5 separate regions of the Homo sapiens genome follow, and regions 1, 2, 4 and 5 are each linked to region 3. The links come from fine-mapping of genetic effects on gene expression. A gene starts in region 3. Each other region holds a variant in brackets. All regions are shown on one strand. Distances are from middle to middle.

Evidence for each region.
Region 1: its variant is fine-mapped to the expression of NSUN7 in whole blood (INTERVAL, PIP above 0.99).
Region 2: its variant is fine-mapped to the expression of NSUN7 in testis (GTEx, PIP 0.97).
Region 4: its variant is fine-mapped to the expression of NSUN7 in nasal epithelium (TOPMed, PIP 0.98).
Region 5: its variant is fine-mapped to the expression of NSUN7 in whole blood (INTERVAL, PIP above 0.99).

The regions. Positions count from the first base shown.
Region 1 is chr4:41,213,872-41,220,034 of GRCh38, reverse strand. APBB2 (amyloid beta precursor protein binding family B member 2) reads left to right here and starts at 5,493. Exons shown (of 18, transcript NM_004307.2): 1 at 5,493-5,630. RefSeq lists enhancers at 3,182-3,431, 2,739-3,553 and silencers at 3,562-3,611, 5,229-5,398, 5,809-6,118. The variant A/TAGGA (reference allele first, on the strand shown) is at 2,435.
Region 2 is chr4:40,808,316-40,814,478 of GRCh38, reverse strand. It overlaps NSUN7 (NOP2/Sun RNA methyltransferase family member 7), which reads right to left. Exons shown (of 12, transcript NM_024677.6): 12 at 3,295-6,163. The coding sequence ends at 5,540. It overlaps APBB2 (amyloid beta precursor protein binding family B member 2), which reads left to right. Exons shown (of 18, transcript NM_004307.2): 18 at 1-4,452. Among named protein-coding and RNA genes, the nearest start is that of NSUN7, 61 kb to the right of the region's middle. The variant T/CTTT (reference allele first, on the strand shown) is at 2,829.
Region 3 is chr4:40,746,987-40,753,149 of GRCh38, reverse strand. NSUN7 (NOP2/Sun RNA methyltransferase family member 7) reads right to left here and starts at 3,195. Exons shown (of 12, transcript NM_024677.6): 1 at 2,850-3,195; 2 at 2,159-2,547. The coding sequence starts at 2,456.
Region 4 is chr4:40,198,441-40,204,603 of GRCh38, reverse strand. All of the region lies in intron 1 of RHOH (ras homolog family member H), which reads right to left. Among named protein-coding and RNA genes, the nearest start is that of RHOH, 4.5 kb to the right of the region's middle. The variant G/A (reference allele first, on the strand shown) is at 2,785.
Region 5 is chr4:40,818,491-40,824,653 of GRCh38, reverse strand. It overlaps APBB2 (amyloid beta precursor protein binding family B member 2), which reads left to right. Exons shown (of 18, transcript NM_004307.2): 16 at 895-1,010; 17 at 2,604-2,783. Among named protein-coding and RNA genes, the nearest start is that of NSUN7, 72 kb to the right of the region's middle. The variant C/A (reference allele first, on the strand shown) is at 3,217.

The DNA.
Region 1 (6,163 bases), 470 kb before region 3:
GGAATGCCTCATGGGCATAAGTTGCTGGCGTGTGGGTGTAGTGGGGGTTGGGTAGAGGGAGAGGTATGAGCTGGGGACGGGGTGGCTGAAAAAAGAGGTTGGTAGTAGAGGAATCCAAATATATTTTTGAAATGGAATAAGGGTTGTTATATTTTTAATTTTCTTTTTATTACCAACCAAACAAGCAGCAGTGATGGAGTGATGGAGTTTGATTATGTGTCCTTCAGTTTAGTAGTTAAGATTTTATCTTTAAGCAACTGGAAGTCATCAGCGGTTTTAAAGGAGAAGAATGACATCATCAGCACCTTTTTTTAGAAGGATCACTCTGGCAGCGGTGTGAAGAAAGGGCTTGGATTGGGAGTGATGGGTGTCATCAAGGTTGGTTAGCAGGATTCTGAAATATGCATGAAAAGACAGTGAGGACAGTGGACAGTGAGGACAGAGAGGCAGGCCCACATTTGAGAGGCAGGCATTCCTGAGTTGGGAGCAAAAGGGCTTGGTGATTAATTTAATGCGGGTGGTTGAGGAGGAAGGAAGAATTGAAGATGACTGAGATTTCTAGTTTAGAAACCTGAGTAATTGGGGAATGTCATTAACTGAAATAGGAGTGGAAGGAAGGAAATCATCCTATGTGAGGCCTACCAGAAGCTTTACATATGTTATTTAATCTTAAATAAACCTATAATGAAAAAATTAACATGCCCATTTTGCAGATAAGAAAAGTGAGATTCAGTGAGGTAAAGTAGCTTGCCCAAGGTCACACAACTACTAAGAGCTGGAATGTGAAATAAGGTCTTACTCCAGTGCCCCTATTCTTTCCATGATAGTAGGGGACTTTATGCTTTGTACCTCTTTGTACCTTTCTACACTCTAATAATAATTTTAGTTTGGAAAAATAGGACTGAAGCTCAATGGGAAGGTAGACCATGGAAACATGGTCCTCCCAGGAATAGTGCAGTATGAAGAGAGATTAAAGGATTGCCCTAATGACATTAAGGCCCAGAGCAGCACTGTTGAATACAATTTTTTGCAGTGATGCAAATGCTTTTTACTTACATTATCCAATACAGTAGTCATTAGGCCATATGCTACTGAGCACTTGAAATGTGGCTAGTATGAAAGAGGAACCGAAGAGTTAATTCTAACTGATTTTAAGTGATTTCAGATTAAATAAGCATATGTGGCTAGTGACTGCCATATTGGATGGTTTAGGACTAGAGAAACCAGTCAGGCGTAGAGGGTTCATCAGAGAAGAGGCCTTGCTGGTACCCCTGAAAAATCACTCGATATTTGATCATCTGCCTCATACCTCTGGGTAATATTGGTCCTATATTTGGGGACCATAATTTATTAGCTAGCAAAAGGTTTTTTCCTAGTGTGGACTACAAACTTATTTTACTATGTTTTATCTTTAGGAGAGTAAGTACAATACTCCCTCTCCTTTCTTATCTGAGAATCATTATAGTCATTTTCTCTGTATTTACATTTTTCCATACATAGTATTATTTAAGAGCTCAAGCTCCAGGAAAACTGCCTGGGTTCAAATCCCAGTTCTGCCAATGAATATTTTGTGCCTTGAGTTAGCTGCTTCACATTTGCAAGCCTCACTTTCCCTATCCATAAAATAGGGATAATAATAGTGCTTCATTTATAGGGTAGTTGTGAGGATTGAGTTAAATAACCTATGGAAAATGCTTAGCCAGTATCTGGCACATGCTAAATAGTCAGTAAGAGTTAGCTATTCTAAAACTAGTACCGTGTGACAGTGTGTATTTTGTACCTCTGCATTTTGACATTTACTCAACTCTATTTTTGCTTCAATAGAAGGTGTTCCTCCAGATCTCTGTCAGAACATTCCAAAAAGAAATTCATTCCTCAAGATAAGAAGGTAGACAGAGTTTTGAAGAATTAGATTTTATCTTATTGCAGGCATGAGTTTTGAGTTGTTTTTTATTTCACTTTGATTACTAAATTGTTAAAGTATTTAAAATCATTACAGAAGAAAATCATGACCGTGATATTTTGTTGTGATCATTAAAATTCCCTTGGTTTAAGCTCAAACCGTTGCACATATACCACACAATCAAATAATAATACTAGAAGTTCTTAATGTTGGCACAGAAGATTTCTTGATGTTTTGTAGTTATACTGTTTTTTTTGTTTTGTTTTGAGATGAGGTCTTGCTGTGTGGCTCAGGCTGGAGTGCAGTGGCTATTCACAGGCAAGATCCTACTGCAACTTTGAACGTCCAGCCTCATGTACCCTCTTGCCTCAGCCTCCCCAGTAGCTGGTACTACAGGCTTGGGCCACTGCACCTGACTCATACCTGTTTAATTGAAATATTTAATTCCTAGACTCTGGCTATTCAATGCCACTTAGAAGTGGCTGGATATTTGTTGATCATGGACTATTTAAAGACTAATGACGTCACAGG[A/TAGGA]ACAAGTAATAGGATCCCTTTTGTTGTCACCTATTTTGTATTTTGTAATCTTTGGATTGTAAAACTGCATTGTAATATAGTATTGCACTCCCTACGGTGTTTGTGCAAAAAACATTTTTTTTTCCCCATTAGATTGGAATTTTGAGAAATCTGGCTTCAAGTGCCAGTTCTGCCTTTGGTTTGTCTAAATAAAGAAGTCATTTATTTCTCTGGGCCACAGAGAGGTAAATGTCATCTGTAAAGTCTAAGAGTTGATCTTGATTTGATTCTAGAATGGTCTTGAGGTATCCTTCCAAATAAAATTCCTTGGATCTGCCTCCTTCCCCCAACTCCCTAGGAGGACCTTTGGCCTTAAGGGACTTAAGAGAGGTCAGTTTTATCTACTGTTCACAGCGTTTACTTCCATGCTTTAAAAAACATGCTCTTGGAATATTCTTGGATATTTCATTTCCTTGGAAAACAATTAATGGGTGAGTCAGCATGAAGAAAAAAACCCACTCACAATAGATATAAAAATTGCATGAAGTGGTGAAACGAGAAATGATTTTCTTTGTAAACTGAAATGATGAGGTATGCAGAAACCAATTACGTATTTATAAAATGAGCGCGCGGTGGGAAAGCTTTATGTAGCAAAGCTAAAGTGCTGTTACATATTTAGCAAGACAGAGGGCATGGAGATTCCTCTCCATACTGCCTTAAAACTGCTGTTAAACGTTCCTTTCAGTGAGAGAGACAATGTGTTGGGAGGCGGACGAAGGAAGGAAGCAAGGGAAGGGTCAAAGCCTTCCCTCCGGCCCCGATCAGTCCCCTCTGTAAATTCATAATTAAGGGAATTTCCTCCTGCAGCTGCGCAACGCTTGGTGGCCGTTTCGACGTCACTGTCAGGGCATTTCAGGGATTTTGTGTGCCCAGGCAGTGACTTCCCGACTTCTCCGGCGTATCCCCGACGGGGCGCAGAACACCGCCCGTGGCGAAGTCGGGCCGGGGGAGTTTGGGAACCCGTCCCCGGGAGCTCAGCGGCCAGAGGAGGGCGCGGAAGTGTTTCCTGGGTGAGCGCGGCAGCGGGACCCGTTTCCGGAAGGCTGATTGCATCAGGTGTGGAGCAGGGCGCCTCCTCGGCCCAACCTGGCGGCCTCTGCGCCTGCGCGCGCCGCCCCGCCCCCCCCCCCCCCCCCCCCCCCGCCGCCGCGGACTCCACCGCGGGTTTTCCTCTCCGTCGGGAAGAGACCGACCTGGGAGGGGCAGGCTCCGCTCACCTACCCCGGACCCCCGAGAGAGAGCGGGGTGGCCAGGCCGGGTTCCGGGGATCTGAGGGGAGCTGTGAGGTCCGGGAATAGAGTGCCTTGGAAAGAGGACCCGTCTGCAAGGTTGGAGGCTGGTCGATCTCCGCTCCTGACGGGAATGGTGGTCTTGGGCTGGTTTCCTTGCCTCTTTGGCCTTGAAGATCACAGACTAAGAACCACAGGCTCTCCAGTTCAGAGAGCCTGTATTTTCCCCAAGAGGTCTACTGTGGCCCTCGACTGTCCTTGGTCCACGGACGTGTTAGGTGGATCTTGGGGTGCAGAGACTCAGTCCCAAGAGTAAACACTTTTCATGAATTTATAGGGATTTCTCTGTGACAGTATTGTTTTTATGTTGTAGGAAGGAGGGACATGATTGCTGGCCTCCAGCTCGGTCTGAGGGAGATAATTGTTAATTGGAGAGGTTATTGGAGTGCAAAAGTCAGAAACCACCTTCCACAAGGCAGCCCCCCTCCCATCCCTTCGTAACAACCTCACTGAGTCTGCATGAGGGTCCCTCTATACACTCTATTCGCACCTTGTGCATTTCCCTCCCAGCACTCTACCTGTTTGAAATAACCGTTTTGAGTGATTATTTGATAGGTGTCTGTCACCCGGCCGGACTATAAATTCCATGAAAGCAGGGGCCTGGGCTTTTAAATTCACCACTATCCTCAGGCCTAGTACAAGACCTCGTGGATCCTTAATAAACTCATGTAGGAAAGAATAAAGTAATGCCCACCCCACTGCATAGAGTCCTCATAGGAAGAATCACGTGAGTTTTTAATTCGAGATCCTTGGTAGGACTGTGTGTGTGTGTGTGTATGGGTAGGGTTCTCTAAAGTGTATAGTCCTCACACCAGCAGCATCAGCATCCCATGGGAACTTGTTAGATATACAGATGCTTGGGCCCCACCACATATCTACCCATTCAGAGACACAGATTGGGACTCAGGGATTTGTACTTCAGCAAACCCTCCAGGCGATTCTGATCCAGGCTCCAGTTTGACAACCGCTGCCCTGGTGAAGAGCAATCCTAAGGATACTTTGGGGATGTCATTCACAGCGTCTGGGGCAGAGCACGGTTTACCGTTTACTGAGACTCGACTCTTATCAGGGCTTTGTTTGCACGCTTACAATTAGAGTTATAGATAATATTATTGGCAATGGAAAGGAAAACCTCCTTTTCCTCTCCGGCAGTTGTATCTCTCCCCTGATATTATCTTGTGATTTCCGGATCAAAGAAGAGTGTGTGTGCGGCATATGCCTGGGGGTGGGGATAGGAGGTAGAAGGAAGGAGAAGGTGTCGCCTACAACTTGCAGTTAGCCTGGGTGGGTGTGGGCAGCTCTCCTGTGGGGACATTTTCCTATTGCAAGGGAATGCTGGCGTGTGGGAGAAAAGCCAGGGCTAAGGTAACCCAACTGCCTTTTGGTGCAGACAGACACCAGCCACACGGAGGGGATACCCGGGCTGCACTGCACGTCCTGCCTTTGGGTCTTACTGGGGGACCCATTGCCTCCCTGCGTGTTCCCAGGCGATTGGGGAGGGTGCCTCCCGCAGGCCCTGCCGCCTCCACCTGCAGGGGTCGCCCTGGGAGCGCGGCCCGCCTCCTTCTGCCCGGCCCCCACCCCCCGGCCCCGCCTTTCTCCCATTCGGCCCCCTCCCCGCCGGGTCCCTCCAGCCTTCCCTCGCGCAGCCGCTGCCAAAGCCTGGAGAAGTGGAATCTCGTCAGCGCCGCTCCCTGCGCGGGACTCGCGGAACGGCACTGAGCATGCTCAGTTGCCGGAGCCCGTTCTGGTCTCAAGTAGGAAGCTAGTGCGCTGTAACCGCATCTGATCTGGGCGCTCCGGGAAGGGCGAGACTGGAGCAGAGCCGCTGGGCGCCGGAGCCGAGGCGAGCGCCGCGCGCACCACTGGTGAGCCCAGCTTTCTTCCTTGCCTTTGCCCCGGATTCCGGGGCAGCACGAGAGTGCTGGGGAAACACCCGGGTAGCGGCAGCAGCGTGCGGCGAGCGGCTGCGGGTTCCCCCGGCGGCTTCTCCTCTGCTCCCGGCCCCGGGGCTCCGCGGCCACTGCTGCCCGCTCAGCCGCAGCCACACCTGCAGCAGCTGCCGCGGCATCTGCAGCGGGGCGCCTGCTGCGGAGTCCCGTGCGCCCTGCGCCCGCGCCGCAGGGCCAGTGGCACGGCGACTGCGGGCTCACTCTCCTTGACTTCCATCCCTCCCGCTTCCCGGCGCCCTCTTTCCCTCAGCAGCCCCGGCTTGGCAGGGCCTGGGGCGGGGGAGACCGGGTTGGAGGCGGTGCGCCCGGGTGGGGACTGCAGAGGGGAAAAGTGAGGGTGGGCGCCTGCGGGAAGAGCGCACACCCCCTTGTCCTGGCACCGGCCTCCGCTGTGCCGCTCGGCTGTCTCTCCTGGGCGGCAGCGCGCTCCTGCCGGGGAGTTGGAGCCG
Region 2 (6,163 bases), 61 kb before region 3:
AAGATCTCACCAAAGTTCATGAAAACCAGGACTAGGACCCACGGCTCCCAAAGCCCGTTCTTGCTGTGTTGTGCTGCCTCCATATCCGTCAGGAAGAGCCTTTCCAGAATGATTCTGGGCATATACTAAGAAGAGCAGGTATGGAAAGATCTATTGTCAGGGAATCTTAGAATTCCCTACACGAGTGGGAGAAAGATGTCCAAATTCCTTACGCAGTGGTATTCATGATGGTGCCCTATCTAAGTCCAGGACTGTTTTCCTACAGCGTGCCTCAAAAGTGTTGTAGAGGGCAGGATTCTACATTCACAGCCTGTTCCATCTACGAGATTTTCCAGATGCTACTTGTGGTAGACATTCCTAACTCATGGTACTTAGCCACCAGAGATCATGATGGAATGAGTGGGTGGCTTTTCTACCTGCCATTCCCTCAGAATTCATGAGGGGTGGGGGACAGGGGGACCGGAATTGTCTTAGCACCCCAATGTTATGACAAAACTATGCTACTTTAGAAACGCAGTCTGTTTTTCACCAATTGACATACTACTGATCTGAAGTAACCAGTGCCATCATAAGAAATTACTGCATTAAGAAAATCCTTGCTGTGCCCTTTGAAAAGCTGTTCAGAAATCATTTACAGTGATCTTTCATCTCGGTCGCTGTAGTGAAACATTTTAGTGTGATAAATTTCAAAATTCTAAACAAATTACCCACTTTTATATTGGAAATCTCTACCAGAACTCCCTCTTCATTTTTTAAGGCATACATTTGCTTGTTTTCAAGATCAAGAATTCTGAGCTAGCTTTAAGTAGCAAACTGATTTATATGTGCAATTATAGGATGCATTAAGATGAATGATAGCCTTTACATATTGAAAACTTTGCAGACGTTTTGTTTTGAAAATGGCATTGTATAGTAAATGCAAATTAATTTTGTAAAATTATGTTAAAGAGTATGTTCAGACACTTTCTGCCATGGCCAAAAAGTATGTATGAAAGTATGTGTGTATTTGTTTGTAAAAGGATGCCAATGTTTTACCTGATATCTTAGTGACACTTCAGTTATCTATGCATTCTTTAGATCTGTGATTCGGTAAACAGGCAGCCATGTTCACGATGCCTTCTATGTCTTACCATATTTTTAATTAACCTGTTAAATACAGCTTAAAATATTTTTATTTTATTTATTCTATTTTTACTGAAATATACTGCATTATTGTGTTAATGTATTATCTTTCCTGGATATTATCTCCCAGTGTATCCAGATCTAAGTAATCTCAGTGAACTATACATTGCCTAAAAAGTGGTTTTGTAATGATTTGTAGTCACATTTCTATTGGGATATGTAGAAGAAAAGGCAAAATGCTTAAAGTTCCTTTTATTTTTTAAAAGCAGCTAGATAGACACAGACTTGCCACCTCATACATCTGCTCCTTGGCAACATCAAGGGGAACGACTAGCCAACATGCCTATGGCTAAAAACTTTCCTTTGCAGACTAAAGCACTGCTTGGTGCTTCGTTTTTCTACCCTTCACAACATGTGTGATTTCATCTAAGAGATATATACATGTACACATGCCCTTTGTTTCCACCTGGATACAAGATCACTCATAGCTAATTAGGACCATTGTTTTTTGTTCATCTGTCTTGTTGCATGAAGGGACATTAGACCCATTTCCATTAAAATAAGTTCTTGGTGATAAACTGTGGCACTGCTACTTCTTTTTAAATCCACTTTATGATTTCAAGATGGACACTTGTAAGATGACTCGACACAAGGCCATTGCCTGGAAGCCCCAGAGCTTTCCTCTGTTTGTATGGCCCGTTCATGTCCCAGGCATTGCAACACAAACTCCTCAAGATTTCACCACAACATGACAAGCATTTTCCTAACTGATATTAGCACAATTTAACTAATAAGCCCCTTCGCTCTCTAGTTGGCCAGGCTTAACCTAATACACATCTAACGTGTGTGCCACACGGCCAGTAGAAAGTTTAACTTCAGCTTCAGGGCAAAGATACCCACTCACACCGTGTCAACGCAAGCAGTAGTTCCTGGCCTCCAGAGCAGCTTACTTCCCCTGAAAGAACGCTTTGTTTTCCTTTATGCCCTTTTCCTGTTGACCACTTTTACACATTTAAATGTAATTTGTTGTGAGAATAAATTTAGCTGCATAAAACGTTCGGCTCATTTATCTGACATCTTAGTCACATATACAAGGAATAGAAATAGAAACTCGGTGTCTCTAGTTATTTTTAAATTATTCTTACCTCAGACTTCTTAGAAATCACTTTAGTAATGGAGCATTTTGCTTTGATTAGTTACTACATATTTCTGCCTGGTAAGAACTAGGAAGTAACTTCAAATTTTGAGTAATCACCCTGTACTTATTTGGTGATCAGGAAGGCCAGCTGGCCTTCCGGACATAGAAGCCTATTTAGTCACCAACTCGAGTCTTTTGTAAGCGGTCTTGCTAGGATTGTGATATTTTAGCACGAAGAAGTTTATCACTTCCTTTAAGAACCTGACATCAAAGAATAAAGAATAGAGGTGTACACACACTAAATCCAAAATGAAAGGTAACTAGAGAAATCAGTTGAATCTGGTTTAGCTTAACTGTTAGGCGCAGGAAGGCAGATAAACAGAATTTAAAGTATGTCCCCGCTTTTTGTTCATCTTGCACTTCCACAGTGGTTTCTCTCTAGTCAGTAACAAAATTTCATTATGGTTTCAGGCATTATATGGTGGTAAATAATTTCAGATTAAAAATGTGTTTGCTATTGGAGTATCTGAATACTAGTAATTTCATTATTTAGAATTTTGCAGCACTT[T/CTTT]TATCTCAAGAAGAAGTCCAAGAATGTAAAATGCCAAATGAAACATGTCAGTGGAATCAATATTCTCCTTCATTAGAATTCCCTCATATTGCTTTTTTTTTTTTTCTTCAGACAGAGGAGTCTTACTCTGGAGTGCAGTGGTGTAATTTCAGCTCACCACAACCTCCACCTCCCAAGTTCAAGCAATTCTCGCCTCAGCCTCCTGAGTAGCTGGGATTACAGGCATGCACCGCCACGCCTGGCCAATTTGTATATTTTTAGTAGAGACAGGGTTTCGCCACGTTGGCCAGGCTGGTCTCGAACTCCTGACCTCAGGTGATCCGCCCGCCCCAACCTCCCAAAGTATGTGAGCCACCACGTCCGGCCTCATATTGCTTTTATCCAAAATTCTTTTCCCTTTTCACTCTACCAAAGTATTTAAATAATCCTGTCCTTCATAGAAGATTCTCAAAGAAGAAAACTGCAGTGTAATTAATGAATGGTTTAATTCAGAATCTTCATATACTTCTAAAGAGAAAAATAATTTAGTGCCAAATGCATGTTAGGAGATAATCAATGTAAGTGGCAACAAATTGTGACTTCACATGCTACTGTAGAGATCAGAAAATTATCCTAAACTATTCCATAACAATGAGACAACATCACAGAAAATACACTTGAAAATAAAAATCTCAAGACCAGCTACTTCTGGACAATGGAATACTTTTCAGTCTGGTATGGTGGAGGGCCCGAAAAGGATAAGGGATTCTTATGATACACAATGGGATTCTTTACTGAACAATATGTTAAATTAAGCTGCACCGCCTTCCTTGAGGCATGGACTACCCTAACCAACCAGATAGAAATCTGGGTGGGATAAGAGGATGAGCCACACGCTATAATTTTAGGGCAAGGAGATAGTGTTTGATTTTCAAAATCAGCAAAATAAGCTGAGCACTTTATATCTTTCTGTACAAGAGTGATAACATGAAGAATTCTTCTTCAGGGATTTAAAATACAATAAGCCTGGTTCAACTATAAAAAGTCTTGTTTCCTTTCTTCATTGACACTTTTTTTTTTTTTTTTTTTTTTTTGAGGCAAGGTCTCACTCTGCTTCCCAGGCTGGAGTGCAGTGGGGCAATATTGGCTCACTGCAACCTGCACCTCCTGGACTCAAGAGATCCTCGTACCTCAGCCTCCTAAGTAGCTGGGACTACAGGCGTGTCCCACCACACCCAGCTAATTTTTGTATTTTTTGTAGAGATGGGGTTTTGGGGTTTCGCCATGTTGTCCAGGCTCGTCTGGAACTCCGGTGCTCAAGTGGCGTGCCCACCTCAGCCTCCCAAACTGCTGAGATTACAGATGTGAGCCACTGCACCCAGCCCACTGACACGTTTTACTGATAAATGTAAATCTAAGCTAAAATAAAAATAATGTATTACCGCTATAATACAATTCACCATTCTCTTTTCTCACTTCAAGTAAGAAAGTAAAAATAGAATATCAGAGCTGAAGTAGACCTAAGTATTCATCTTGAAGAAGATAATATTCTAAAAATCATGCCACCTGAATTGAGCATTTAGGAATTTATGTAACATTTCTATACAACTGAATTGCAAAAATAAAACTTTAAATTCAAACTTTATGAATATGTCTATGAATGTTTTTAAATAATAAGATATATAGTTGTATCTTAATTCTATTTAATGACAATTTCTGTTGCCATGATGAAAAATCAGTAGACCCAGAAATGATAATCATACCAATTTTTGGTAGGCAATTGAGAATACATTCAAGATGAATCGACATTTAATATAATTAATTAACATAGTGCTACAATATATTTAATTGTGCCTCAGAAATGATTTACCAAAGTTTGATTCCTGTGTGCTATTTGAAATGACTTGTAGATTTTGTTGTATCCCCTGATCTTAGAATCAGAAATTTGTGGGTTTCTTCAACAATAGGTATCGCTTGCATTCAACAGTTTTGCCTCTTCTTCAGAATTATTAATATTTAGATGGAAATTTGCTCACAGTCTTTTGTAACAGTGCTTGACATAGAGGAAGGGAGAGATGATTGTGTCCAGTCTGCTCAGGATCCTGGAAGCTCCCCCAGTGAGAGACACCTCACTGTAAAAGGAACTCTGAGCTACACACACCTGGCACTTGGGAACTTCCTGCGCTTCCTACTTAAACTCAACTTCAGTCACGTTACAAAAACTCATGTTCATTCCCTGTTCAAAGAACAGCTTGATATTTAAGAAAAAATCACCCTTGATCGTGACTGAGAAAGTCACGACTACAACCGCATGGATGCTGAAGAGCGGTCAGCTGGCGGGAGAGGCCAGGATCGTTTGCCTGTTTGGCTTTCTAATGAGCTACCTGCTGAAGGGAGGCAGTGTTTCCTTCCCTGCAGGGGAAACTTGGCAGCTTTAAGTCCAGCCTGAAAGTTCACAGGAGTGAGATAAGTTCTGACCGCTGATACTGAGTCTCTAACTGGATCCTCTCAGAGCAGCAGTGATTGGCTGAAGTCTCTGAATTCTGCTTTGCTGACTCCTACATTATTGTTTCTCACTTGTCTGAATTCTCTGAAAGTAATATCACACTTAGAAGATCCCTAGGTGACCAAAAGAATGAATATCTTGTGTAGAGATGTAGAATCTTCAGAGAAATACTAGACTTTGAAAAAAAATCAACTGCTCTTTGGCCCCTATAAAAAACACAAGACAATCAAAGCCATCGCCGAGGAGGCCTGAGTAGGGAGGAAGGTGTGTCATCTTTAGGCTTTTCCTCTTTTCTGGATAGTGAGTGTGTGGGAAGGCAGGTGGGCACAAGTGCCTTGGGTGCAACCCAACGACAGTACAAATGTTGAGTTGGCATCCGAGATCTGATCCCTTGGGGACTTGAAAATGGCATAAAGACTGGAGGCAGAACAATCTTGATGGGTTTCAGAGCAACCATTCTGTCTTCTGGCCGAGGTCTTAAGAAGTGTGTCTGCCGTTCACGCGGTCTGGAGGGACAAGTGTTCTTCACAAATGCAGGCACTGCAGGATGGGGGGCCAGCTTGTTGGGTTTTCTGGTCTGTGAGGAAGCCCCCACTTGAGCAGTATTTTTCTGGGGAAGAGGTGGTTTTGTTACAGTCTCTGATAGATTAGCACTGGCTTTAGTTTCTCGATTCAGGAACTCAGCAATTTTCATTTGGATGCCATTATCAGTAGTGGCACCTTTTGTCAATGATGTTTTTGATTTTTTCTTCTTCTTCTCCCGTTTTGATGATTTACCCAACTCAATCCCATCCAGCAGACCCTTGGCTGCAGCTCGGGCCAAAACATCATTCACAGACACTGTCTCAGA
Region 3 (6,163 bases):
ATTCAGGCTTTTCTTATTGAGTACTAAAGGTAATACTCAATATTCCATTAGGAGAACAAATTGCCTAGAATAAAATTCTAGCATTAACATTAAATGCCAATTAATCAACACAGCTGCCCAGTCTGCATTTCACTGTTGCGAGAAAAAAAGTATAAAAATGTTCATTTGATTCATTGCATGAAATACAACACTTTGGTTAGGGGAGAGGGGAAGAAGATGGATGAAATAAAATCTCAGAGATTAAACTGGAGGAAGAATGGTTAAGACGGACTTAAAAGGAAAAGAAAAATTACTGAGGAGAAAACAAAGAAACAAAAAACAAAGAGACTCTCTGCAGACAACCAAAAATATATATTCCTGTCTAAATAATCAGTGAGACATTTTAATTCAACTGAGCATTTTTTTTTAATTTTAAAAAATAGAGATGGGGGGCCAGGTGCAGTGGCTCACGCCTGTAATCCCAGCACTTTGGGAGGCTGAGGTGGGTGGATCACAAAGTCAGGAGATGGAGACCATCCTGGCTAACACCGTGAAACCCCGTCTCTACTAAAAATACAAAAAATTAGCCAGGCATGGTGGCGTGCGCCTGTAGTCCCAGCTACTCAGGAGGCTGAGGCAGGAGAATGGCGTGAACCCAGGAGGCGGAGCTTGCAGTGAGCCAAGATTGTGCCACTGCACTTCAGCCTGGGCGACAGAGTGAGACTCCATCTCAAAAAAATAGAAAATAAAACTAAAAATAGAGATGGGGTCTTGCTATATTGTCCAGGTTTGTCTTGAACTCCTGAAGTCAAGCAATCGTCCCACCTCCACCTCCAAAAGTACTGGGATTACAAGTGTAAGCCACCGCATCTGGCTGAACTGAGTAATTAACTGCCTCCTACGAGCAAGGATGTACAAGGCTCATTAAGTACTAAGAAAATCATGCAAAAGAGTGTTGCCCTTTTTGAGGTGTCTCTTTAGGAAGGCTTCTGCTCATCATTTTGGCCATGCTGCTAATATTCTAAACATTTCTGGAACTTCTTTTTGGAACTACATTCAATCAGTTTACAAACCAACATAAAGTTTTTAGTCACAGCTAGTACGAAAACAAACAACTTCAAGCCTTTTGACTGCTCTCCTCATAGTAGCAATATTTGGTCATTTCCTAGTGTCAATTCCACAGGGTCTTGCTCTGTCACCAGGTTAGAGTGCAATGACACCATCTTGGCTCACTGCAACCTCTGCCTCCCAGGCTCAAGCGATCCTCCCGCCTCAATCTCCCAAGTATCTGGGACTAAAGACATGTGCCACCATACTGGGCTAATTTTTAAATTTTTTTTTGTAGAGAGGAGATCTCACTATATGCCCAGGCTGGTCTTTAACGCCTGAGCTCAATCAATCCTCCCACCTTGGCTTCGAAAAGTGCTGGGATTACAGGCCTGAGCAACCACCCTTGGCCTCAGATTGATAACTAACCATCCTTGAGTCTCAAACCCTGAAAGCAAATTAGAAAGGGAAGTTCTACTAAAGTTTGGCTCCTCCCATTAAAGCTAGTGGCTATGAATGGGATAGTCTTAATTGGGGTTGGTGTAATTTTGATATTCATTTTTTAAATTTTGCACCTTTTCTTTTTATTCCGTCTCTGTTCCTCTCCCCATCCTCCCTCACTGGTTTTATATTTGTGAAAGCTCATAAACTAAAATACCAAAAAAGGTAAACACAGGGAATGGAAAGAAATACACAGGGAGGCCAGGCGTGGTGGCTCACTGCCTGTAATCCCAGCACTTTGGGAAGCTGAAGAGGGAGGATTCCTTGAGGTCCAGAGTTTGAGACCAGCCCAGACAATAAAGCGAGACCCCTAAGTCTACGAGGGAAAAAAAAATACAGGGAGAGGGAAATGATCATTGGAATAAATTGTTTCCTTGTTGAATGTAATGACCGCGCACTACACCGATCTAAGGACAAACACAGTGCACGGGGAAATCTGCAATCCTGGGCTGGAAGAGCTAGTTTCATGGGAACCCTAATTCCTTGACACTTGCAATTAACCAAAGATATGCACATGCCTAAAACCAAAACCTGGTGTGAATGAGGGGAAGGGAGGAGGAGGGCTGCATTCCCCAAATTCTCTCGCTATTATTTTCTTTTAGTGTTGATCTTCCAGACTGGCACAACTCACATTTCAGGGCACTGAAAGCCAGCTCATAAGACAAACGCTGAAAGGACTGATCCTCAGACTCGGACAAGGACCGCAGGGGTTCATTCCCATACTTGATTAAGACTTTCTGTGCCGACTTTTCGATTCGAATACCCTGAAAAATGTTGGCTGCCATGACATAAACGGAGTCCGGATAGCCCGTTTTTTCGGGCACACCAGCTGAGCTTTTCCCACCGGACAGAGGCAGGGAAGTGAGTTGGGAGATGATCTCGGGATCTTCTTCGTTCGAAAACTCCAGTTCGCCCGTGGAATTCAGCATGTCTGCCCCTCGCCTGTCGTGAGTCCTTCACCCTGGGGTTAGAATTCCGATGTTCCAGGAAACGGCTTTCCTCGCATCTGCAGCATGGTCTCTGTGAAGAGAGAAGGTGATTGCAGTAAATCACTCTTTCTGCAGCACCCCTGTGGGTGGCCCCCTTCGTTGTGGCCTTAAAGACTAAGAGGGAGCATTTCCCGTCCCATCTGAGTGTCCCAGACTTCGAGCCTGGGACGCTCAAAAAAAAAAAAAAAAGCGAGGAGGGGTGCAGCGGCGGAGGGAGAAGAGCCCCAAGGAGACCGACGGCTTCCCTCAAGCCAGTCTGGGGGCAGAGCTGCCCCCGGAGCCCCGTCCGCGTCCCCACAGCCCAGTCACCGGCTCCCCCGACTCCTCCCTTACCCCGAGGGCGGATGGTTCCCGGGGCTTCGGGGACGAAGACGCGGAGGGCGGCGTCGGTCACAGGCCCTTGGGAGCCCCGGGACTGCGGGGCGACGGCTGCTGCCCGCGAAGGCCGTTTGGTTCAAATGCAGCCACTCCCACCGGCAGGATTCGGGGCAGGGGGGTCGCAGCCTCTGGCGCCCGGTTCGCTCCGGTGTCGTGAAGTGGTGGGCGCCTCGGGGCCTCGCCTGGCCTCGCGCGTGAGGCCTTCGCGGACGTGGCGGCGAAGAGGGGTGAGCGCGGTGCCCGGGGTCTGGCTGGCTCAGGCCGAGGAAAGCTCAGCCTCCCGAGTCTCCGGCAGTCGACTGCTCCCGGACCGGGTCTTCATGGCAACCGCGAGCGGAGGTGGGGCAGGGGGCGCGGCGCGAGGGCCGTTCCCGCGGGATTTGGCGGGTGCTACCTGTTGCCGGGAGAGTCGCTCTTCCCCCAGCGCGCGGAGACACCTGTTTCAGCCCCTCCGAGCCAGAGGCCTCTTGCACAGTTCCTGGACCTCACCGGGCCTGAGTGCGTGCCCTTGGCTTTGTTTATAAACATTTGGGGATATTTTTGAGGTAGTCTGACGTAGTTCCGTGGTTTTAACTCACAAGTTCCTGAAGTCCCTGTTAAAACTACACATTCTTTAAAATATTTTTAAAATATAGTAATAATTTTTTTTTTGAGACATGGTCTCGCTCTGTCGCCCAGGCTGGAGTGCAGTGGCGCAATCTCGGTTCACTGCAGCCTCCTCCTCCCGGGTTCACGTGATTCTCATGCCTCAGCCTCCCGAGTAGCTGGGACTACAGGCGCCCGCCACCACACCCTGCTAATTTTTGTATTTTTAGTAGAGACAGGGTTTCACCGTGTTGATCAAGTTAGTCTCGAACTCCTGACGTCAAGTGATCTGCCGGCCTTGGCCTCCCAACGTGCTGGGATTACATGCGTGAGCCACTGCGCCGTCTGTAATAATTTTTTTTAATAACAGAGACAGGGTTCCCATTATGTTGCCCAGGGTGGTCTCGAATTCCTGGGCTCAAGGAGTCCTCCCTCCTCGGCCTCCCAAAGTGCTGGGATTTCAGGCGTGAACCACCGCCTCCAGCTAAAAAAAAATCCTTGGAACCCATCCTAGAGATTTGAGTTGCTAAGACCCAGTAATTTGCATTTTTATCAGGTAACTGGCGATTCTGATGCAATCAGCCCAAAGACCACAGTTTGAAAAACTCTGGTATAGTTGAAAGACAACTGGTCCTAATTCCACCTCTGCCTTTCCTCCTTAGGGATTTGCCCTTCCTTCTTTAGGCTAAGGCCATTTCCATTTCCAGCCAGTGGTTAGTAGGATGAAGGGGAAAGAGAGGGCAGCCCATATTTTTCAATGACCTGAAAGGTGCACATATCACTTTGGCTCACATTTTATTGGTCAGAACTCAGTCATATACCCAGCAACCAAGAGGCTGGTAAATGTGTCCAGCTAAAAATAAGGGAACTATTACTGTAGAAGAAGGAGAGAATGGATAATGGGGAAAAAATTAGCAGTACAGAACTCTAACCCTGACCCCTTCTCTCAGAAATCCACCCACTTTCATTATCCCCGGAATACGTTAAACATTCCGTAACATTTTATGTATACATGCATTCATTCGTTCGTTTAACAAGTATATATTAAATTCTTGCTGTGTCCCTGGCATTGTGTTCAGCCCTACAAGTAAAATAATGAATGTATAGAAATGATCAGACACCTGACCGGGCGCGGTGGCTCACGCCTGTAACCCCAGCACTTTGGGAGGTCGAGGCGGGCGGATCACGAGGTCAGGAGATCGAGACCATCCTGGCTAACACGGTGAAACCCCGTCTCTACTAAAAATACAAAAAAATTAGCCGGGCGTGGTGGCGGGCGCCTGTAGTCCCAGCTACTCAGGAGGCTGAGGCCAGAGAATGGCATGAACCCGAGAGGCGGAGGTTGCAGTGAGCCGAAATTGGGCCACTGCACTGCAGCCTGGGTGACAGAGCCAGACTCCGTCTCAAAAAAAAAAGAAATGATCAAAGACCTTGCCCTCAAGAAATTAAAGATGGATATATTTGTATTTTGTCACCTTTTCATTTTTGTTATAAAGATTCGTGTACATACCTGCATTACCCCCCTTCTGCCATCTTTCTATCCACACAACACACACACTCTAAAATAGTCTTGTTTTATCTTTATCTTTTCATTTTTATTATATATCTTTTTTATTCCCAGATGCTAGCAAAATATCACTCTCTTTCACATACAGACATTCACAGAAGATTACAAATATGGAAGGTGTCTTAGAGGTCATGATATATTTTATCATGCATCACCCAGTACACAGTGATGTGAGGCAATAGCTAGCTATAAACTTTGAAATATTGTCATTCAAAATATAATTTGAAGAGTTTATTTTCTTTAATAATAGTTCAATGTAAGTAACAGTTTACTATATTGAAAACAAGGTTTAACGAGTCTCTATCCCCAAGGTAGAGCTTAGGCAAAGAGTTGTGGGGTTAGCAAATTCATGGTTACTATTTACTTTAATCATGTATATAATCCTGCCTCCTTACTTCTCACTCCTGGTTTATAGCCTCATTGTGGACTTAATGTATTTGAGGGGAGGGTCAGAGGAGAGCATATTAAATTTCAGTGAACACTGTAAAAAAGTAACCATAGAGACAGGCATATGAGTTCAATTGTTGTGAAAGCAGGATAGTAAAAAAAAAAAATGTAGTTTTTGTTTAAGTTACACTCTGTAATATGACCAGAGCATTAAATCAGACATGAGGAGAAAATCAAAATGTACCTGAGGCTTTCTGCCAAAGGAAATTAATGATTTTTCTTTCCCCAGGGGGTAGAATATTTAAGATATTTGTAAATTAACATTCTTGCATTTGACTCAGAGTACTAGTATATGTTAGGCATGTGAATATTCAAAATACATCTGCTCACTTGCATCAATTTGATCTAGACAATATAAAACGGTGCCCAGTTCCAATGAAGCCTGTTACAGAAATATAAAAAGCATAAGAAACATAAAGAATCTTAACTTGTGTTCTTAAACACCAGGACTCAACTTCCAGTTATTGCTTCTTAGAAACAGTATGGTAAATTTTCATTGCAACACCTTTTGCAGATTCCTCTGTCACCTAGGCTGGAGTGCAGTGGTGTGATCATAACTCATTGCAGCCTTGAACTCCTGGTAGCTCAAGCAATCCTCCTGCCTCAGCCTCCTGAGTACCTGGGACAACAGGCATGCCACCACACCCAGCTAATTGTTTTTTACTTTTGT
Region 4 (6,163 bases), 550 kb after region 3:
GAGAGTCCATGAATGGGTTTTAGAGGGTCCTTATATCCCCTAGGACTGTGCAGCAAATGTTCATGGCCCTGTGTGAGAAAGTCTTTGGCTCTCATCACATTGTCAAACGAATCTGTGACCAAAACTAGTGATTAGGAAACATTGCTCCAAAGCACAAGCCAATCAGTCCATGAAAAACCCTGTTAGGTGGGGAATAGAATAGTCAGCGCGTGCTTGTAGAAAGAGGTCTGATTTCAGGCGTTAGACCCTTGCACATCCGACAGACCCTGTGACTTGCGCCTCCAATGTGAAGATGGGTTGTTAACTTATCCTTGATTTACCACATCATGTCTCAAGAGATCAGAGGCCCTGACGATGGGGAATGTGATTAAAGTAAAAGAATCATCTCCACTTTAAGAAGAGCACGAGACATTGAAGGCTATTTGAAAGCTATTACAATCACTAAACTTCCAAAGCCAGGTGAAGCAGATAATCTCAGAACAGTGGCTACTGCGATGTCATTCACTTTCATATGTTTATTTTGTGATATAATGTTGTTGTGGCATAAGTCTAATTGTTATTACTATTTTGAGTGCTGAGTTCTGTATATAAAATACTACATTTCATCAAAAAATATACTTTCTTTTCTTCTTTAACATAATGTTATCATACAGTAAGGTCCAGAGTGTTTTCTGTCCGTAGCACTCCCATATTCTACCACGGGTTTAATAACCACCGCTCGATGGCCTGAAATAGAATGTTTATGGGTCCCAGACTCTCCCCATGACCATCTTTCTCTGTGCTCATAGTTCCCCTAGTCACAGCTACTTTTAATTGGTTCAAGTGCTGGACAAAATTGTTTAACTGTGGAAGAGGATTTTGTGCCACAAACTATATTCCTTTAAGGAATATCGTAAGTACAGCTTCCTGGTTTTTGCTGTTTGTTTCTATAACAAATAAATAACTTGTCCCTCTGGGCTTTCTCTGTTTTCATTCCCCTTTTACATTATAAGTCCTTCAATTCTGAGCCTTTAAGTAGCGGCTTCACCTTCAACACACACACACACACTCTCTCTCTCTCACACACACACACACACACACACTCACAGATATACCTTCCCTGGACAAAACCAAACTGTTGCATTTATTCCACTAGTGTTTCTCAAAGTGTAATCTGCAGGCAATTCACATCAGAGTCTTCATAGGGTGGGAGGATTTGTTAAAAATGCATATTCCTGCCAACCTCTAGACCAACCGTATCAGAATGCATGGAGATGGAACCTGGATGCTAAATTAGTTAACTCTTCCCGCACTCATCCAGGTGATTCTTAAACACACTAAAACTTGAGAACTGGCCGGGCGCGGTGGCTCACGCCTGTAATCCCAGCACTTTGGGAGGCCGAGGCGGGCGGATCACGAGGTCAGGAGATCGAGACCATCCTGGCTAACACGGTGAAACTCCGTCTCAACTAAAAATACAAAATAATTAGCGGGGCCTGGTGGCGGGCACCTGTATTCCCAGCTACTCCGGAGGCTGAGGCAGGAGAATGGCGTGAACCCGGGAAGCGGAGCTTGCAGTGAGCCAAGATCATGCCACTGCACTCCAGCCTGGGCAACAGAGCGAGACTCCATCTCAAAAAATAAAAAATTTAAAAAAAACTAAAAATAAATAAATAAATAAAACTTGAGAACCATTGCTCTACAAAAATCATTTCCTTTCTGGTGTCAGCCCCTATTTTTTTCAGGTCAAAATGGAGTTAATTTCTTATCCATGTTGTTCACCTCTGAGATCAGCGTCTCCTTGTCTCTTCCTAAGAAACCTTCTCTCGCCTGTCTCTCTGGCCTTTGATGGTAGTTTTTCTCTGGGCTATTTCTCAGTCCTTGCAGTCTACTTTTAGCAAGTCCTCAGGACACAGTTACTTACTTCTTCCTCCTCCTTAAGCTGCTCTAAAGAAACCCCTTTAGCATCCACAGCTCACACTGCCTAGCTCCAAACTCCCTTTACAATACCCTGCCCAGGGATTCACAGTAACATCTACCGGTTAAAGGTAAAGCCCCATGTGGTTCACAAAACTCATAGCCTTCCTCCTAAATGTTAAAACTACTCAAGATCACTTATTAACAGGTGTTCTCCAAATTTCTTAAATGAACACACACCACGACTACAATAAACAAAATAAAAACAAATTCTACTATTTCACCATTCTAACATACCAAATGCTGTCATTCATTTTTTTACGGCTCACATTTAATTCTTATTCACAACAAAATCAGAATGTAATTAAAATTTTTAATTCTGATTTTCTAACCTAACATCATATCAAACATATTTTCATAACCATCATAACTATGATTTTTAATGACTTTAAAAGAACCCATGGGCTGTGCGCAGTGACGTGCCTGTAATCCTAGCACTTTGGGAGGCCAAGGCAGGAGGATCACTTGATCCCAGGAGATGGAGACCAGGCTGGGCAACAAAGTGAGACCCCGTCTCTACAAAAAAAAAGTTAGCCAAGTGTGGTGGCACACGCCTGTGGTCCCAGCTACTTGGGAGGCTAAGGCAGGAGGATCAAATGAGCACAGGAGGTCAAGGCTGAGTGAGCTGTGATTACACACTGCACTCCAGCCTGGGTGACAAAACAAGACCCTGTCTTAAAAAAAAAAAAAAAAAAAAAAAAACTCATGGAGTTAATGTTGCCAGAACTCCTATTGCTTAGTGTTCAGGGTATTTTCAGATTTTGCTGCTATAAATGATAATACAGTGAATATGTTCATGCATATTACTTTTCTTTGAATTATTTATTC[G/A]GAATAAATTTCCAGGGGTGGAATGAATGGATCAAAGTGTATGAACACTTTAATGGCTCTTGATACATATCGTCAAATTGCCATATTTGTATTTTACACAGTTCCTCAGTAGCATGCTAGTAAACGTTTAACAACATGCTTGCCCCCCGCCCCGAAAAAAAAAAGGTGGGGAGCCTGATTTATTGTGTTTGCTGATTTTCACAGTGTACTTTTACCATAGCCAATTTCAAGCCACCATCATGACATCGCTGAATGCAAAATTGAAAACAGATGCTCAGATAGCACAATATTATATAGCATTTCCATCACACAGATAAAGAGAAGTCAATAATGTCACTGGCTTGGAAAATTTCTGAAAATATTACAATCAGCACTTGAGAGCAAGCCGGTTCTAGAACACCACTGTAAACATCTCCCTTGATATTTTGCAACAGCACATCTTTTTTTTTTTTTCATTGAAATCATTGAAAATTCACCCTGTTCCCATCTGTGTGACAATGAGCATGCTTTTAGGTCCATAGATGATGCAAATAATGAATAAAACCTAATGCAAAAAAAAAGGGGGGGATAGAGTGAACATCTAACACCTGTCCGGGTTGAATAATTCTGTCTACCCACCCTCAAACATTCATTTTACCGTGCTTTTTTCCATGAGGTCATGTATACAAATGATTCAATCATTTATTTACTTAACGAGGCACTGAATGGATGACTATACGTAGTTCTCAGGCAAATGTGATGAGAACCGTATCTTCTGTTTCTTAACCACTCTCTTCCTTGGGTTTCTTTTCTACGAAATGGGGAAGAGGTCACTGTGACTTCAGTTTTACGAGAAACTGAGTGCAGAGATAAGAAAGGTTCAACTTGTGCTCTAAGAAGCACTTGAACATTCAGTAATGCTCTGGAAATTTCTTCCAAAAGCAATTCATTAGTATTCTATTTTACCAGAAAAGAATGTGATTTGGTGCTTTCGCTTGAAAGCAACATCCCCTCTTTGGGCTGCCCCGGAATAATATATAGCTTCTACATGTATACAACACTTTGGTTTTTAAATGAGCGGCACCGTACGTTTGCGTGTTAAAATGCGGGTATGACTGAGCTAAACATCCTCATATCCTGGACCCAGTCACCCCGCTCCCGATAACTCATCTCAAGGAATGAACTCAAAACAAAGGAAAATACTTGCTGTGTGAAGATATTAATCACAATAGAGAGTAGATCAATTTGCCTCATTTCAGCACTTATTCAACTTACGGTTTCTGGGGCCCTGGTAGGAGAGTTCTGGATTCTTGGTTCCTAAATCCCCACCTGCAAAACGACCACTTTCCAAGTTGTTTTGGGGCTTGTATTTTTTAATCACACAGATTCCTGGACCTCACGTGAGGGCTGGGGTATGAGACATGGAATTTCAGTTTCTTAAAAGCTCCCCAGGTGGTTTTGCTGTCCAGCCAGCTTTAGAAACCACTATTCCACAGTGAGACACCAGACACATGATCGTGGTCTCTGAACAACTGTCCACATCCGGGGAACAGTATGACAACTTCTTGTGCAAGTCGTCAAAAGGTTGTTCAGGGCATTCAAGCAGTTGCTAGAGTCAAATGGCTAAAGAGCTCACAGAGGAGCCCTAAGTTTCTGGCACCCTTCCACCCCCCTGGGGTCATCCTTTCCATCTCTGACACCCTCCTTGCTCTCACAGCCCACCCCAGCCCCCACACTGTCATGCTGCCTCCCAGCCTCCACCTGTGCACCCCATCCTGACTTGTGCCCATCCCTTTTCATACACAAAGCTCCAGAGTCTCCTCCCTTAGGACACCAGTGGGACTCTAGAAGGAACACTATCACCGTGTGACTCACGTCATCTGCACACATAATTAGGAATCCCCTGCACAATTAACATGCCAGGTGGATTTGCATTTTTTTAAAGGAGGCTTTTAATCCAAAAAAATATTTATAACCTAGAGAGTGGAATGGGGAAGGAGGATGCTTTTTAATCCTGGCTTTCACCCAGATCCAAGCATCCCAAACCCAAATAAGCACTCACTGCCACAATGATCCCCACTCCTAAGTAGAAATGGAATTTTAGCTGTGCCTTGCTAGCACTAAAATTAACACATTGTAAGATAAAATAATTTAATTTAAACTGGGCAAGGAAGAAAGGTCATGCTCTCTGCCTCTAATGAAAAGCACCTCTAGAATTCCACCCCAAGCGTTCAGAGAGCGACGTCAACCAAGGAGGCCCACAAGTAATGCAGCGGATACTGAGAGGACCTCTCTCATCTCATAAGCTAGAGAAACTGTTACCAAATGGCTTAAAATAGCGGTTTCCAAGTTTGTTTTCCTTCTTTCATATGTATTCTCACTAGAAAAACACCCAACCCCTGTGCCTTGTCCATATTTGGTGCTCAAAAAACGTTAATTCCCAGCCTCCACCTGTCACCCTACTTTCCCTGGAAAGGAATGTTGGGATTAGGAGAGTTAGCTTTGCAGGCTTCTTGCTCTTAAGCCAGGGCTCATAACACCTTCATTTGTGGCAATAGCCAAGTCCTTAATAAGAATCATAAGAGTTGCATCTATTGAGAGATTTTTTTTTCAGTCAGGCACTAGGCTACATGCTTTACATATTTTTATCTCATTTGATCTCTACGACAACCCTCTGAGGTAGGTATTTTCAGTTATTATTACTGTTATTAGAGATATTTTGTGAATTTTTTTTTTAATCTGAGCATTGAAGAAGTTAAGTAACTTGTCTGAGGTTCCCACAGCCCAGAAATGATAGAATGATAGAATGGGGATTCCATGCAAAGTGATCTGGCTCAAAAGTTGGGTTCTTATTCACCGTGCTGTATGTTTGTTATTATATGGGTTCAGATATTTTATGGTCCAGAAAAAAAGTGTCTGAATTATTATGATCTACTGACTCTCTAAACAACGTCCAGAAAAAGAACAGAAGCATACCCGTGCCATCTCATTTAGACATGCAAAGAAAGTAGCACATATTTCATGGAATTTGGGGACTGGCTTTTGAGGAATAGAGACTTGCTTATCATTCATCAACCAACTCGTTCTCCCAAGAGGAAGGCCACTTTAATTCCTGGATAATTGAAGGGCCTCCTTAAAATGAAGAAACCAGAGGTGGAGGTCTTACTGGTACCCCGAGCCACACGAACCTTTCTCTGCATAAATGATGTCCTAAGGGAAGACAGTAGAGGGCAAATGGAGGCCCACAGCCAGGCACAGGGATGCAGAAAGCAGCCCCAAGTGGGAAGAGGCCACGCTCGACAAGCTCCCTCTCACATGGAATTCTGCTGGTGCCGTGAGAGCCGAGGAAGCGCAGCCGCAGGGCAGAAGGAGACCAAGGACTATTGAATGGGGTCACTTC
Region 5 (6,163 bases), 72 kb before region 3:
TAGCTGGGCATGGTGGCATGTACCTGTAGTCCCAGCTACTCCAGAGGCCGAGGTGGGAGGATCATCTGAGCCTGGGAGGCTGAGGCTACAGTGAGCCGTGATTGTACCACTGCACTCCAGCCTGGGTGACAGAGCAACACCCTGTCTCAAAAAAAAATTGATGATGGTGATGGGTGCGCTCTGTGAATGTACTAAAATCCACTGGATTGCACACTTTACGTGAGTGAATTGCATGTGAATGATACCTCAATAAAGCTGTCACTCCCACCCCTATCCCCCAGAAAAACTGTGGAAACAGCTGGCAAAAGGGCCCTACTCAATGGGGGGATCCACTGTAAAGGTGCCATCAAGAGACAGTGAGGGTGGAGAGAGGCTGAAGGGCCATGGTCTGCATAGGTAGACAGCGTCTAAGGCACCAGGTCCCCGGAGCTTCTCCTGACTCTCCTCTCCTACTGAAAAGGCTGTTATTTCTTTTTTTTCTTTTTCTTTTTTTGTTTTTTGAGACAGAGTCTCACTGATACTTGCCCAGGCTGGAGTGCAGTGGTGCGATCTCAGCTCACTGCAGCCTCCGCCTCCTGGGTTCAAGCAAGCATGTCCAGCTAATTTTTGTATTTTTAGTAGAGACAGGGTTTCACCGTGTTGGCCAGGCTGGTCTCGAACTCCTGACCTCAAATGATCCTGGCTCAGCCTCCCAAAGTGCTGAGATTACAGGCGTGAGCCACTACGCCCGGCCAGAAGCTGGTATTTCATTCCTGTTGAGCAAACATGAGAATGAAGTGTCCTGTCTATTAAAAAAAGATCAGTCTGGGCGTAGCTGTTATTGGTGATTTGGGCCCACATTTGAGTGTGGTAAGTGGCTTTAGGACACTTTAAATTATCCTTTTCTGTCCCCAGGAATGGATATTTTGAACAGTGCCATAGAAAATCTTATGACCTCATCCAACAAGGAGGACTGGCTGTCAGTGAACATGAACGTGGCTGATGCCACTGTGACTGTCATCAGTGAAAAGGTGAGAAGGAATCTTCGATGACATTGGTGTGTCTTATACAGTGAGTATAAGATACAGTGGTTTTCTGTGGAACTTAGGAACATAGTCAAGGCCGGAGTTGTGCATCCTTGTGATTAAGATGGCCTACATTTGAAAGATTTGGCCCTTTGTCTGGGTCTAAATCTGTGCATACCTCTGTTTTCCTGTGGCCTGAGAAACTTCTCTTCTGGTGCTTCTGATTCTGTCTTCCTCATGTGCCCCAGAGAGAAATTGTTTGCTAGAGGTGAGTGTGTGACGCTAGTAGTCGCTCACTCTCAGGGCGCCAGTATTGCCTGGGCTGTGTGATCTGGGGATGAAAAGCAGAAGATGCTTCCATTTGGGAGAGTCCTGTGACTATCAGTAGCAGAAGGAGCTATTGGTTGTCTTGAGAAGAGGCCACATTAGCCTCAGCCCAAATTATCTCAGTTTCGTGGTTGAAGAAATTGAAGCACAGAGAGGCTAAGTCATTTGCCCAGCATCACACAGTTGGAAGCAATGGAATCAGGACTTAAATCCAGGCAACCTGGCCCAGACTTGTGCCCACTTTTCTATTCTGCCTCTGTGAAGCACCTGCCAGGGAAAGACCACCAGTCATCAGCCTGCCCCACAGCTGCCCGGTTCACCCTGGAGAGAGGAGCAGGGTGCTCACTGCCTGCCTCCAGCTGGCCACACTGAGCTCTCCTCACCTCTTCAAGTAGGTCCCGCCCTTCCCCACACCAGCATCATCGCAAGCACTGCACCCTCCATGCTCCACCCTCTGCCTACCCGACCCTTACCCAGATCACCACCACAGCCTCCTTCCTCCTGAGAAAACTTCCCGACCTCTCACACTAGTGTACTTTGCTCATTAAACACTCCCAAGGCACTAGAGTGAATATTTAATTAGTCAAGATGTTAATGATCCAAAAGTCAACATTTTGGATGTGTTTATTAATTCAAAACTTGCATATGGTTCTTGCAAAGGATGTGGTGTTCATCCCTATGAGAAAGAATTCTGAACATTTCTTTACGCTGCCTCATGTGGATCCCAGATGGACACCAGTTTGCAAGAGAGAAAAGAAAAAAACAATTTGACAACTTTTTGTTGATTTGGCAGCTTTTTGTTTTATATGGTTTTAGATGGAAATGTGATTCAGTGTGCTGTTTAGTTTGGGTAAGAATCACTGGACGAAGAAAGATACCGTGAATCCCTTTTTTCTGGTGCTCTGGGGGTTTACTTGGCCAAATGGGTTTTGGGCCACCAGGTGTCCTGTATTTGGGCTAGATGTAAGAAGTATGGACGGCACTGTCCCTCCCCACAGTGAACTCACAGCCACGTAGCATAATGGAGAATGGGACCCACATCACACCCCATGACAGCAGTGTAGTTCAGAGCAAGAATGACCTCCAGAACAGGGTAGCCATGCAGTGATGGCCTCTTCAGACATTTGGGCAAGGTTCCGCCTTTCGAGAAAAACACAGGTCCTTTCTGAATTCGGCCTGGCTATACTTTCTGAATGCCAGTTCCTATGTGCTGCCACTCTTAAGCTTGATCCTGGGATCTCCTGATTGGATGCCGCATAATGTCTCTTGCAGAATGAAGAGGAAGTCTTAGTGGAATGTCGTGTGCGATTCCTGTCCTTCATGGGTGTTGGGAAGGACGTCCACACATTTGCCTTCATCATGGACACGGGGAACCAGCGCTTTGAGTGCCACGTTTTCTGGTGCGAGCCTAATGCTGGTAACGTGTCTGAGGCGGTGCAGGCCGCCTGCATGGTGAGTTATCCCGGTACAGGCTGTTGAGCCCTCCCGCCTCTGCTCATCTCTAATATGCCATACATTATAGCAGAATCACTCACGGAAATGAAAAAAGTCGAATCCCTAAAGTAATGCTTTACTTTATAACGCCGTCATTCCTAGGGCCAGAATCAGTTATGATAAACAGATTACATCTCCAAAGGCCAGAACTCCTGAAAGAAGTGGGGCCAGATAGAGGCTCCGATGAGTTTCATAACCACCACCTTGACGACGGTCAATCCTTGATCCCAAATCAATTTCATGTGTGAAATGTTGGTCGTGTATGAGTTGGTACTGTTTGGGTTCAATTCAGTACTTTAAAAATCAATACATTGAATGACTTTTGTTTCCAGTGATTGGTTTCTGTACACCGTTCTTATATATTTTATTTATATCTGTTAACTCAGTCCTT[C/A]CGACAACTCTGTTAGGTAGTTGTTAGTTCTGTTTTATTTATGAGAAAATAGAGACTTTAGGGAAGTTAGAGAATGGGCCTCAGGGCTTGTCGGTAAGTGACAGAGCCGAGCCTGGATTCAGCCCCAAGCTGCCAGGTGACAAAGTCAGAGCTCTTTATACCACATGGATACTTGGAAACAAACAAGAATCCCTCATTATTCCTTCAGCATGTGTCTTTGTGCCCCTCTTATGCCAGACACTGCAAAAGTTCTAATAAAAATGAGGGAACTGGGCCGGGGGTGGTGGCTTACGCCTGTAATCCCAACACTCTGGGAGGCTGAGGCAGGCGGATCACTTGAGGTCAGAAGTTCAAGACCAGCCTGACCAAATGGAGAAGCCCTGTCTCTACTAAAAATACAAAATTAGCCAGCGTGGTGGCGCATCCCTGTAATCCCAGCTACTCGGGAGGCTGAGGCAGGAGAATCACTTGAACCTGAGAGGCAGAGGTTGCAGTGAACCGAGATCGCGTCATTGCACTCCAGCCTGGGCAACAAGAGGGAAACCCATCTCAAAAAAAAATGAGGGAGCTATATGAGTGTGGGCACCAAAGCCTGTGGGCAGGTGTGTTCCAGCAGCAGCAGGTTGGGTGCTGGGCCCGAGTGGAAGGAGGTGCGGTCCAGATCATGGCGGGCTTATGATGATGGCGTGTGGGGGCCTGATTTTCTTCAGCAAGGATTGCTAAACTGGGGATTGAATTGATTGTATTTAGATTATTTATTTATTTATTTATTGAGATGAAGTTTTGCTTTTGTTGCCCAGGCTGGAGTGCAATGGCGCGATCTCAGCTCACTGCAACCTTCGCCTCCTGGGTTTAAGTGATTCTCTTGCCTCAGCCTCCCAAATAGCTGGGATTACAGGCACCTGCCACCACGCCTGGCTAATTTTTTATATTTTTAGTAGAGATGGGGCTTCATCATGTTGGCCAGGCTGGTCTCAAACTCCTGACCTCAGGTAATCCACCCGCCTCAGCCTCCCAAGTGCTGGGATTACCGGCATGAGCCACCGCACCCAGCCTGTATTTAGATTTTAGACGAGTATCCAGCAAAAAAAGAAGACAACCAAGTAGAGGATAGGTTGGAGGAACAAGGCTGAGGTGGCGATCAGCCAGGAGCCCAGTTACCTTCTGCAGATGGGAGAGAGGAGGAGCGTCCACGCTAGGAGAGCAGCGTTGGGAACAAACAGGAGCAGAGGCTTTGAGAAGCACCGAGCTGCCTGGCTGGGGGAGAACTGCTGCATGTGAAGCCCCTGGGCTTCATTTAATTCAGCCTCGCACTTACGGGCTGGAATCTGGGGCATTCAGCATGACTGAGATACAGTCCTTGCATTGTAGAGCTCAGGTATAGTGGGGGAGACACAGAAACCTAAACTCTGTTACAGTGTAGAAAGTGCTGTAAATAAAAGTATGAGGATCTTCACTTTCAGCCGGGCGTGGTGGCACATGCCTGTAGTCCCAGCTTCTGAGGAGGCTAAGGTGGGAGGATGGCTCAAACCCAGGAGGTCGAGGTGCAGTGAGCTACGATGGCACCACTGTAGTCCAGCCTGGGTGACAGAGCGAGACCCTGTCTCAAAAAAATAAATAAGAAAAATAAGTATGAGACTGTGCTGGATTGAGAAGTAACTGGGAAGAAAAAGAAGTGGAGGCCCTAAAAGCAGATAACTTACAAAGTTTGCCAGTGAGGGGGAGCTTGAAGGGCAGCATTGGAGGGTTTGTTCATGTGTTTATTTCAGGACAGGAGAGGCCTGCCCCTTTTTTATTCTTTATTTTTATTTTATTTTATTTTTTTTAAGAGATGGGATCTTGCTATATTCCCCAGGTTGGTCTTGAACTCCTCCCTGGAACGGCAGGGGAGCACCACCATGCCCAGCTAGGTTTTCTTTTGTGGAAAATGGAGGTAGATAAAGAGTGGAGGAGGCTGGGCACAGTAGCTCACGCCTGTAATCCCAATACTTTGGGAGGCTGAGGCGGGCGGATCACTTGAGGTCAGGAGGTTGAGACCAGCCTGGCCAACATGGTGAAACCCATCTCTACCAAAAAATACAAAAATTAGCCGAGCGTGGTGGCATGTACCTGTAGTCCCAGCTACTCAGGGAGGCTGAGGTGGGAGGATGGCTTGAACTTGGGGGTGGAGGTTGCAGTGAGCTGAGATTGCACCACTGCACTTCAGCCTGTGTGAAAGAGTGAGACCCTGTCTCAAAAAAAAAAAAAAGAAAAAAAAAAAAGAGAGCCAAGGGGAGGGACTTAGCCTACGAATTAGTTAGAGAGACCTTTTACTTTGACATAGTCCAGAAGATGCTAAGAACCAAGAATGGGTGGAGCTTGGGGAAGGAAAGGGAGTTCTCTGACCGCCGCCCCCCCACCCCATACAGCACATTGTGAGGTTATGAATGAAGGGAAAGTTTGCACCTGTAGTCCCAGCTACTCAGGAGGCTGAGATGAGAGGACCCCTTGAGCCCAGGAGTTCAAGTCCAGCCTGGGCAACATAGAAAGGCCCTATGTCTAATAAAAATGTTAAAAGGATGAGGTGGGAGAGCAGATTGCAAAGGTGGGGCGTAGAAAAGAGGCATTTGACCTTTATCATTTGAAATAGAGCAGGAAGGAGGGAGAAGGGGAGGCCTGGCGTTGAACACTTGTTATCTGGTGTCACACTTACACCATCCTCTGTGAGAGTGGCTAACTCCCTGCAAGAACTGTAGGGCCAGGATTCTAACTCAGACACCCTGAATATGCAGGAGCAGGGCTGGGGTTCAGGGGAGCAGGGACAGTAGAGGAGTCAGGTGAACCCACTGACCAGGTACAGGGAGTTGATGAGATAAAGGAGATCTGTGAAGAAAATAGAAAATGGGAGATTTCAGCCAAGCGAAAATGGATGACAACTATTTTGGTATTTTATGAAATTGAAACAGAT